Homo sapiens: one gene and its partner. The protein of the gene in region 2 purifies or fractionates together with the protein of the main gene of each other region. This does not show direct contact. Each region holds a gene or a part of one and is shown on either strand. Other genes may lie near its edges.

The links. Proteins that work in one complex are often made in the same cells at the same time.
Region 1: the proteins of SHROOM3 (region 2) and AQP7 purify together in Homo sapiens (pull-down; one study listed by IntAct). This does not show direct contact.

The regions. Positions count from the first base shown.
Region 1 is NC_000009.12:33,399,769-33,404,054, reverse strand, and holds the start of AQP7 (aquaporin-7), read left to right. Parts: upstream 1-1,486; 5' UTR 1,487-1,682; intron 1,683-1,906; exon of another isoform or gene 1,907-2,534; intron 2,535-2,767; 5' UTR 2,768-2,792; coding exon 2,793-2,818; intron 2,819-4,286. UniProt on the Homo sapiens protein: Aquaglyceroporins form homotetrameric transmembrane channels, with each monomer independently mediating glycerol and water transport across the plasma membrane along their osmotic gradient. Could also be permeable to urea.
Region 2 is NC_000004.12:76,753,229-76,756,728, reverse strand, and holds part of SHROOM3 (protein Shroom3), read right to left. Parts: intron 2,419-3,500; coding exon 1,537-2,418; intron 1,207-1,536; exon of another isoform or gene 281-1,206; coding exon 1-280. UniProt on the Homo sapiens protein: Controls cell shape changes in the neuroepithelium during neural tube closure. Induces apical constriction in epithelial cells by promoting the apical accumulation of F-actin and myosin II, and probably by bundling stress fibers.

The DNA of each region.
Region 1 (4,286 bases), on a different chromosome or scaffold from region 2:
CTGAATCTTGAGCCCACGTAGAATCTGCAGAGGGAGGCCGGGCGCAGTGGCTCACACCTATAATCCCAGCACTTTGGGAGGCCGAGGCGGGTGCATTACCTGAGGTCAGGAGTTCGAGACCAGCCTGACCAACATGGTGACACCCCGTCTTTACTAAAAATCCAAAAAAACTAGCTGGGCTTGGTGGTGCATGCCTGTAATCCCAGCTACTTGGGAGGCTGAGGCAGGAGAATCACTTGAACTGGGAGGCAGAGATTGTGGTGAGACAAGACTGTGCCACTGCACTCCAGCCTGGGCGGAGCGGGACTCCGTCTCAAAAAAAAAAGAATCTGCAGAGGGAAGTTAGTGCCTTACAGAGGGCTTCTGACTAGGAAGCCCCGGGACTGTGGCCGACCCCTTCCTCTCCCTGCCTCACCCCTGCAGAAAGATCTGCAGAAAAAGCTGGAAGGGGTGGGAGGGTGTGTGCAGGGGTGGGGACTGGGGCTATGCAGGTTCCAGACCTGGTCTTTGGCACCCTCTACAGGACAGTTCCATTCCCAGACCTGAGCTTTGGACAACTGAATCTTATGCCCCTTCCCACCCATGGAGCCTGGTGCCGGAAGTTCCCAGGACTTACCCACCGTCCACCACGCCACATAGCAAGCGTCCTCAGTGTCTGCAGACCAGAAACACCTCCCTTGTGTCTCAGCACTGGGCCACCTGCTGAAACCCCAAACTGCCTGCCCCATTGTTTGAGACCCAGTCAGGCCTTGGCTCCAAAAGTCCTCTGGGACTGCTGCTGGCCCCCAGGGTCTCTCCTGACTGCACCTCGGTCCCGGAGCTCCCACACCGCTGAGCCCCGAGCCCGATGTCCCGATCCAGCTCTGGGTCCTTTACGGGGGCCTTGCTGGCCTTTCCTAAGGGAGGTGTTTTCCCGAGGACAGGTGGACTGCTCCTCAGACTAGGGGCCCTCGGAGGGCCAGGCCTGGGCTTCTACCTCCTCTCGCAGGCTGGTGTTTCTCTGCAAATATGGCTCGTGTGTCCTCCTTCCTCTCAGACTGGGGGCCCCTGAGGACTGGGCCTGAGTTTCCCTTTCCCCCTTCACAATGGGGGTTCCCTGAGGACTGACCCAGGGCCTCCCCCGTCCCCTCCACCTGGCTGTTAATCTCCAACACTTCCACCTCCAGTCCTATTCTGCACAGCTCTCCCCAGCGCTGGGGGCTCAGAGGCCTCTTCAGCCTTCCCCAGGGCTGGGGCTCAGGGAGGGCTTCCTCAGGCGCTGGCCCCAGAGTCAGGCTGCACATTGGCTTGGAGGACAGGCCTTTCCTCTGGGACTGAGAGGCCCAGAGTGCCCACCCAGAGCTCCACCTCTGACCTCACAAAGGCCTGCTTCAGAACTCGGTCTCCACGGCACTGCTGGCCGGACGAGGGATGTTATTTTGGGCAGTGCATCTGGACTTGGTTCAAGTGGCACCAGCCAAACCCCTGCCTTACTGACCTCTCCCCTGGAGGAGCAGGAGCAGCGCTCGAGGCCGCCCTGGGAGAGCTGAGAGGCAGGCTCTGGACTGGGGACACAGGGATAGCTGAGCCCCAGCTGGGGGTGGAAGCTGAGCCAGGGACAGTCACGGAGGAACAAGATCAAGATGCGCTGTAACTGAGAAGCCCCCAAGGCGGAGGCTGAGAATCAGAGACATTTCAGCAGAGTGAGTGGGGCTCCAGGCAGGGTGGGGATGGGGCAGCCTCCTCAGCGCCCAGATCTGGAAGGGCCATTCCCTGGGTACCATACAGGGAGGAGGTGACTGAGGGATTGTTTGGGGAAGGAGCCCCGTCTGGGAGTGGAAGTCCCGGCTTTCTTGTTATGGTGCAGTCCTGTGTTGCTGTGTGACACAGGCACATACACCCTCTCTCTGGGCCTCAGTTTCCTTACCTGTAAGTTGGTTGTTGGGAGGACCAGCGGTAGAGCAGAGATGGCAGGGATGCACTGAGCTGGGCTGTCAGCAGACCATGGGGGTGGGACGAGGAGAGAGCTGAAGACCACCGGCAGTGGACCACAGCGGGAGGCGTGCAGGCAGGAGACGGGTCAGCTGCCGGCTTGCTGGAGTCATTCCTCCCACGCAGTCCCCTCCTGAGGGGCTGGAGCTGGGGCTGGAGGGTTTCGGCAGTCAGGGCTGGAGATAAGAGTCTGTGCTGGAGCTAGAGGGAACTGGGCTAGAGAATCAGGAGGACAGACAGGGTGAGGGGACTTCGGGCTACCTTCATGCTGTCAGTTAGAGATAAAGATAGGAGTACAAAGGGGAATTTTTGGGTGAGGTACACGGGTGAAATGAGTTTTCAGGGCCTCATCCTGTGTGTTCACCTTCTGTGTGTGTGTGTGTGCATGCGTGCATGTGTGTGTGTGTGCAGGTCCTGGACAGTCGCAGCTTAAGTTAGCAGCAAGAGGACTTGAGGTTAAAGGTATAGCACGCAAATATGAGGCTGGAGCCACTGAGTAGAGGCTGAGGGCATCTCCACAGTCCAAAGCCGGGCTGCAGACACGGAAGGTCAGCAGGAGCACTGGAGGGTCTGGCCTGGGGCTGGGGTCCTGGGGCCAGCATGGGTGGGGTGGGGCTCCAGGGCGTCGCCTCATTGGCTGAGCACCGCTCCTCCCTCCCTGTTCCTTGGCTGGGTTAAGGGAGTGGCACTAGCAGGAGCTGCCCCAGGGCTTCTCCCCTGGGGACCAAGGTCTGATGGAAGTGTGGGGCCAAGTTCTGTGTCCTCCAGCCCTAGTGACCTCTCTTTGGCTCCTCAGCATCTACAAATCTGAAAGACAAAACATGGTTCAAGCATCCGGGCACAGGCGGTAAGTACCCCACCCTCTTCTCACCCTCCAGCCCCCTGTCCTTCACCCAGCCCACTTCAGTGCCCTCCCTGTTCCATCCTCAGCCTCTCCCTTGGGGCAGCTGTCCCCACTCGACCTCCTCCTCCCCACCCACCCACTCGCCTCTGAGGTCCCAGAAGAAGAGCATCTTCCACCTGTTGCCTGGGCTGGGTCCTGGGGTGAGGGGAGGCTCAGAAATACTTGGATGAGGGTCAAGGCATGCAGGTGGCCTTCAACTCAACTGCACTCAGCACCTCTCACCCTCTCAGGCTCAGCTGTCTTTGGGGTGAACAAGAGCCAGTCCTTGCAATGGCCAAGGCCCAGCCTTGTTAGCTTTCTGGCCTCCCCACTCCAGCCCCCTGCTCTCCCTCCTCCAGCCACACTGAGTTTCTTTTCAGGTTTTTTTTTTTTTCCGAGATGGAATCCAGTTCTGTCGCCCAGGCTGGAGTGCAATGGCATGATCTTGGCTCACTGCAACCTCCTCCTCCCGGGTTCAAGCGATTCTCTTGCCTCAGCCTCCTGAGTAGCTGTGATTACAGGATTACAAGCACACACTACCACACCCAGCTAATTATTATTATTATTATTTTGGTATTTTTAGTAGAAATGGGGTTTCGCCATGTTCGCCAGGCTGTTCTTGAACTCCTGACCTCAGGTGATCCACCCGCCTTGGCCTCCCAAAAGGTTGGGATTACAGGTGTGAGCCACTGCACCTGGCCTCACACTGACTTTCTTTGCTTTCTTCAAACATGCTGAGAGTCCTCTGGTGACTAGTCTCCCTCCACCTGAGAGGCTTTCTGCAGCTAACATACAGCCCACTCTCGTCTCCTTCATGGCTTTGCTCCAAGGCCACCTTCTCAACAAGGATTACTCTGGCTGCCCTATTTGAAATCACACCCCATCTCCAGCCCCTGCACTCCCAATTCCCCTCTCCTTGCTCTGTTTTTTTCCGTAGGAGCTGGTACCTTCGCTTATACAAATGTACTTACTTATTACATTTCATTGCTGTCAGCTCCACGCAAGCAGGGATATTTGCCTGTTGTACACTTGGACGGAGAGAATGAATAGTGCCACTCTGTTGACATCATTGCCTCTAGCCTACATCGCTCTCCAGGGCTTTAGATCCTGTTTCTAGAGACCCACTGGTGTCTCACAGGCAACTCAGCTCCTAGATGGAAACAGCCTCCTCCGCCCCCTGCAAGTCCACTCCTCCTGTGCTCTTGGCTCAGTCAGGGGTCCCCTTCTCCTCAGTTGCTCAAGCCAGAAGTCAAGGTCATGTCCTTCATACTTCCCTCTCCCCCATGTCTCACATCCAGTCACCAATCTCCTAAAATATCTAGAATGTGCACAGCTTCCACCATTCTTTCTACCACCACCCTACTCCCCCATGGCCATGTCAGGCCACCACCCGCCCATTCTTCAAAACCCCCTTCAGGCCTCACCTCCCATG
Region 2 (3,500 bases):
TGAACTCTTCTGAGGATCAGGACTGACTTTCTTTTCTAAACCCTGAGTTCCACTGACTGGATCATGGCTGAGGCTTTGAGTCTGGATGGGTGCTGGCTGCCCACCAAGAGACCCAGCAAGTTGGGCGTGAACGCTCATGAAGGAGGGTGGTGTGGACTCAGCCTCTGAACCCTTGATAGAAGTTTGGAGTCTGGAAGCCAGTGTCTGACTACCTACCACATGGGCTGCACCAGGCATGTGCCTTTCCCTTGCAATTGTCACTTTAGAAAGTTTGTTGAAGCTGCCAGGGATATTTAAAAAAAAAAAAAAAAGAGAGAGAGAGAAAGAGAGAGTGATAAGAGAAGGGTGATGATAAGAGGGTGGAGAAAGACTGAGGGAGAAGCTTTCCACATCAGGGCTGTAGCTTTCCACATCTTCCACATGTTACTGACAGAGCTAATGTTAAAGAATATGGCTTCTGATTATAAGTGGGTCTCCTGATACTGAACCCCGAAACTAAAAACATTTACCTACCTAGTCACAGGTCATGCTAGACACACAAACATACATAGATATATACATAGGAGTAGGGTGAGATAGTCACATTTGAGATCAACCCCTTCTTTAGAAAACAACAGCACTCTAAAGGGGCTCCTGAGCCCAGCAGCTGGTCAGGAGGTTGTCATCTCCTGAGGAAGATGGACTAGGAATTCAGTTCTGGTGAATGTTGCTGTTAGATTCCAGAGATTTCTGAAAGGTCTAGGTTAACAGGGGTAGTGGTAGTAAGTCACTCTTGTGGTGTTTAAAGAAAGCCACTCAAAAGGTGCTGTCAGGCAATGTGTTTTTTTGGTGTTTTGAGAGATTACTTGTTCTAGGGACTATGTGTTGGGGAATGCTTCTTTCTCATTCTCCTAGCTTCCAAGAGGTTTTCCCTAAACATTACTGACCTTGAGCCCTACTCTTTATTCCTCCCTATGGACATGGAGTGATTTTGGAAAGAGAAGCTGAGCATTCACATCCCAGTCTCTCTTCTCTTTTGAGACTGAGGCTGCCTCAAGGCTGTATATATTAATATCTATGTGTATTTGTGTGTCTAACATGACCTTTGATGAGGTAGGTAAAGCTGTTTAACTTGGGGGTTCAGTATCAAGAGACCCACTTACAATCTGAAGCCATATTCTTTAATGTTAGCTCTGTCAGTAATAAAAGTGATGTTTTTGTCTTCTATATGCCCTCCTCTTTTGTCTTATTTCCTAACTGATTCAGAACTCATCCAGGGAGGAGGGATTTACTTGGACCGCCTAAGCCTATCCTGTCCCCAGAAGTGAAATGTGCCCCTTGGGTCCCAGCTTTCATTTCTGCCACCCTGACTCCTCAGTACCCAATGACACTGGTCCAACTACCTCCTGAGGCAAACAGATCAACAGTGTCCTGAGCTGAGCTGTATAGAAACATCTCCATGCCAGGGTTCTTCTGTGGCCAGCAGAAGGACCTGGGCCACCTGGGGCATGACACTCTCCTGTTAGTGGGGGAAAGCTGCCCAGTCTGCTCACTCACCTGGGGCGTGGCCCCTCGGGATCCTCACTGTCCAGCTGCGCCTCACATACAGTGTGGGGAGGAGGTGGAGGGAAGTCATCCATGCTATACACCGGGGTTTCCTGACTCGGTGGAGGAGGTGGGGGTGGGGGAAGAGGTTCAAATGTGGGGCTGGACGTGGCCTTGGGGTGCGGATCCCTCACAAACACTTCGTCTTCATAATCCTCATGAGGTGGCGGGGAGTCCCGCAGGACAGACTCAGATATTCGGAGGGAGATCCTCCCTGGAGTGCTCGGGGCCCCAAGAGGTGTGTCTGGGTCAGAAGTGCTGCATAAACTTGGAAGACTCTGCTGTTTTTGATAGTGCTTCAGGTTTGCAAAATCAGGGGCTGAGGATTCCTCAGGAAGGCTGTCCTCTCTGGCTGCGTGGGCCCACTTTGCTCGAGAAGGAGGTGGCCACTGAGGCAGCGAGACCCTCTTCCTCGTTCCCTCTTCTACCCCATGCTCTGGGCCATCGCCCTCACAGCCTCTTGGACCGGGAGGCTGGGTCAGGGTGTGACCATTGCTTCTGTGCATCATGGCAGGGGTGTAGGGCGGGAGAGGCTGTCGCCCTGTCTGACCGTCCTGTGAGCAGTAGCCAGAGGGAATGGCTGAAGGCAGAGGGGTGCCAATTGGGGTCAGGGGTGCAGCCCTGGTGTCTGTGACCAGCCCTTGCGTTCCTGCCAGTGGTGGCCTGGGGCAGGGTGTCCTACTGGCTTGCCTCTGATGGTCCAGGGTTCCAGGACATTCACTAGGAACGGAGGAATCACCAATGGCTTTGCAGCCTGAACCACCCCAACGAGGGGTGAGATGGTGGAAGAGCGGCAGCATCTCTTCTTGGCCTCTTTCTGAACAACTGAGTGACCTGGAACGGCACACAGACAGGAGGGTTACAGCTCTGAAGAAAGGGGCAAACATGCAGCCCAATGCTCCTTACATAGATGAGAAAAGCATTTAAGAGGAAGGAGGACCTCTTTTCCTTCCCCCAGAAACTGCACACTGTCTTCCCTGGCTGCTCACAGGAAGACCCAAGTTAAACCAGTACTAGGCAGGCATAAATTCCTACAGGAAAATGTCACATGGAATGACTGGGTTCACAAGGCATTTTCTTTTATTAACCCTCTCACCGCCCCCACATCCTGTACACACCATGCAACATAAGGCAGCTTTTGAGGACAGGCTTCAGGCTATAAAAACAAACAGTACATTTCTTCAGCCCCTTTTAGGACTACTTCAGGAAATAGCTCCCAGCTCTGGGGAAAAATAATGCTGCCTTCTTCTCTCCCAGTGCGATCCCCACGGGGGAGGTCTGTTTTGAAAGCATTTGCATGGGCTGCTGAATTTGAAGGTTTTATTTACAACTTTTGCTTACTCTCCTAGTGTTTTCATTTCATCTGATGAAAAATAAAAAGGAGGGGGAGAGTCTCACCTAAGGAGCTAATAAGCAGTTACCTCTGGAGAAAGAGGCTGGCAATAATAAGCAAATATAGTACATGGTGATTTAAACAACTGTACGCTAGACTCCGAGGAAAAACCCAACAATTCGCAAAACTTTTGTTATTGTGTTCTAAAGGAGAAAAATCCACAAAACAAAACAGAAAAAAGAGTCTGTGGCACTACCTGCTATGCAAGAGTTAATGTGAGGATAAAAAGCTCTCCAGCAAACCCACCGTGATTTGTACATTCCCTGTCTGCAGTTCCCTGACTGGCTATGTGAGTGGATCTGGAGTGCAGATGGCACATTTCATCTCACAGATCTGACTCCTCTGAGGGAGTGGTGACTCAGTCCCACATCAGAGCAATAACACAGGGCTTGCCACAAGATCATCCAAGTGCCAGGCAAACAGAATGCAGCATGTGGTGGAAGAAGATGGCAAAGAACCAAATTAGCTCTTCTCATGCCTTTATTTTTCCTTTATTATACATAGATGCAGATGATGGAATAAA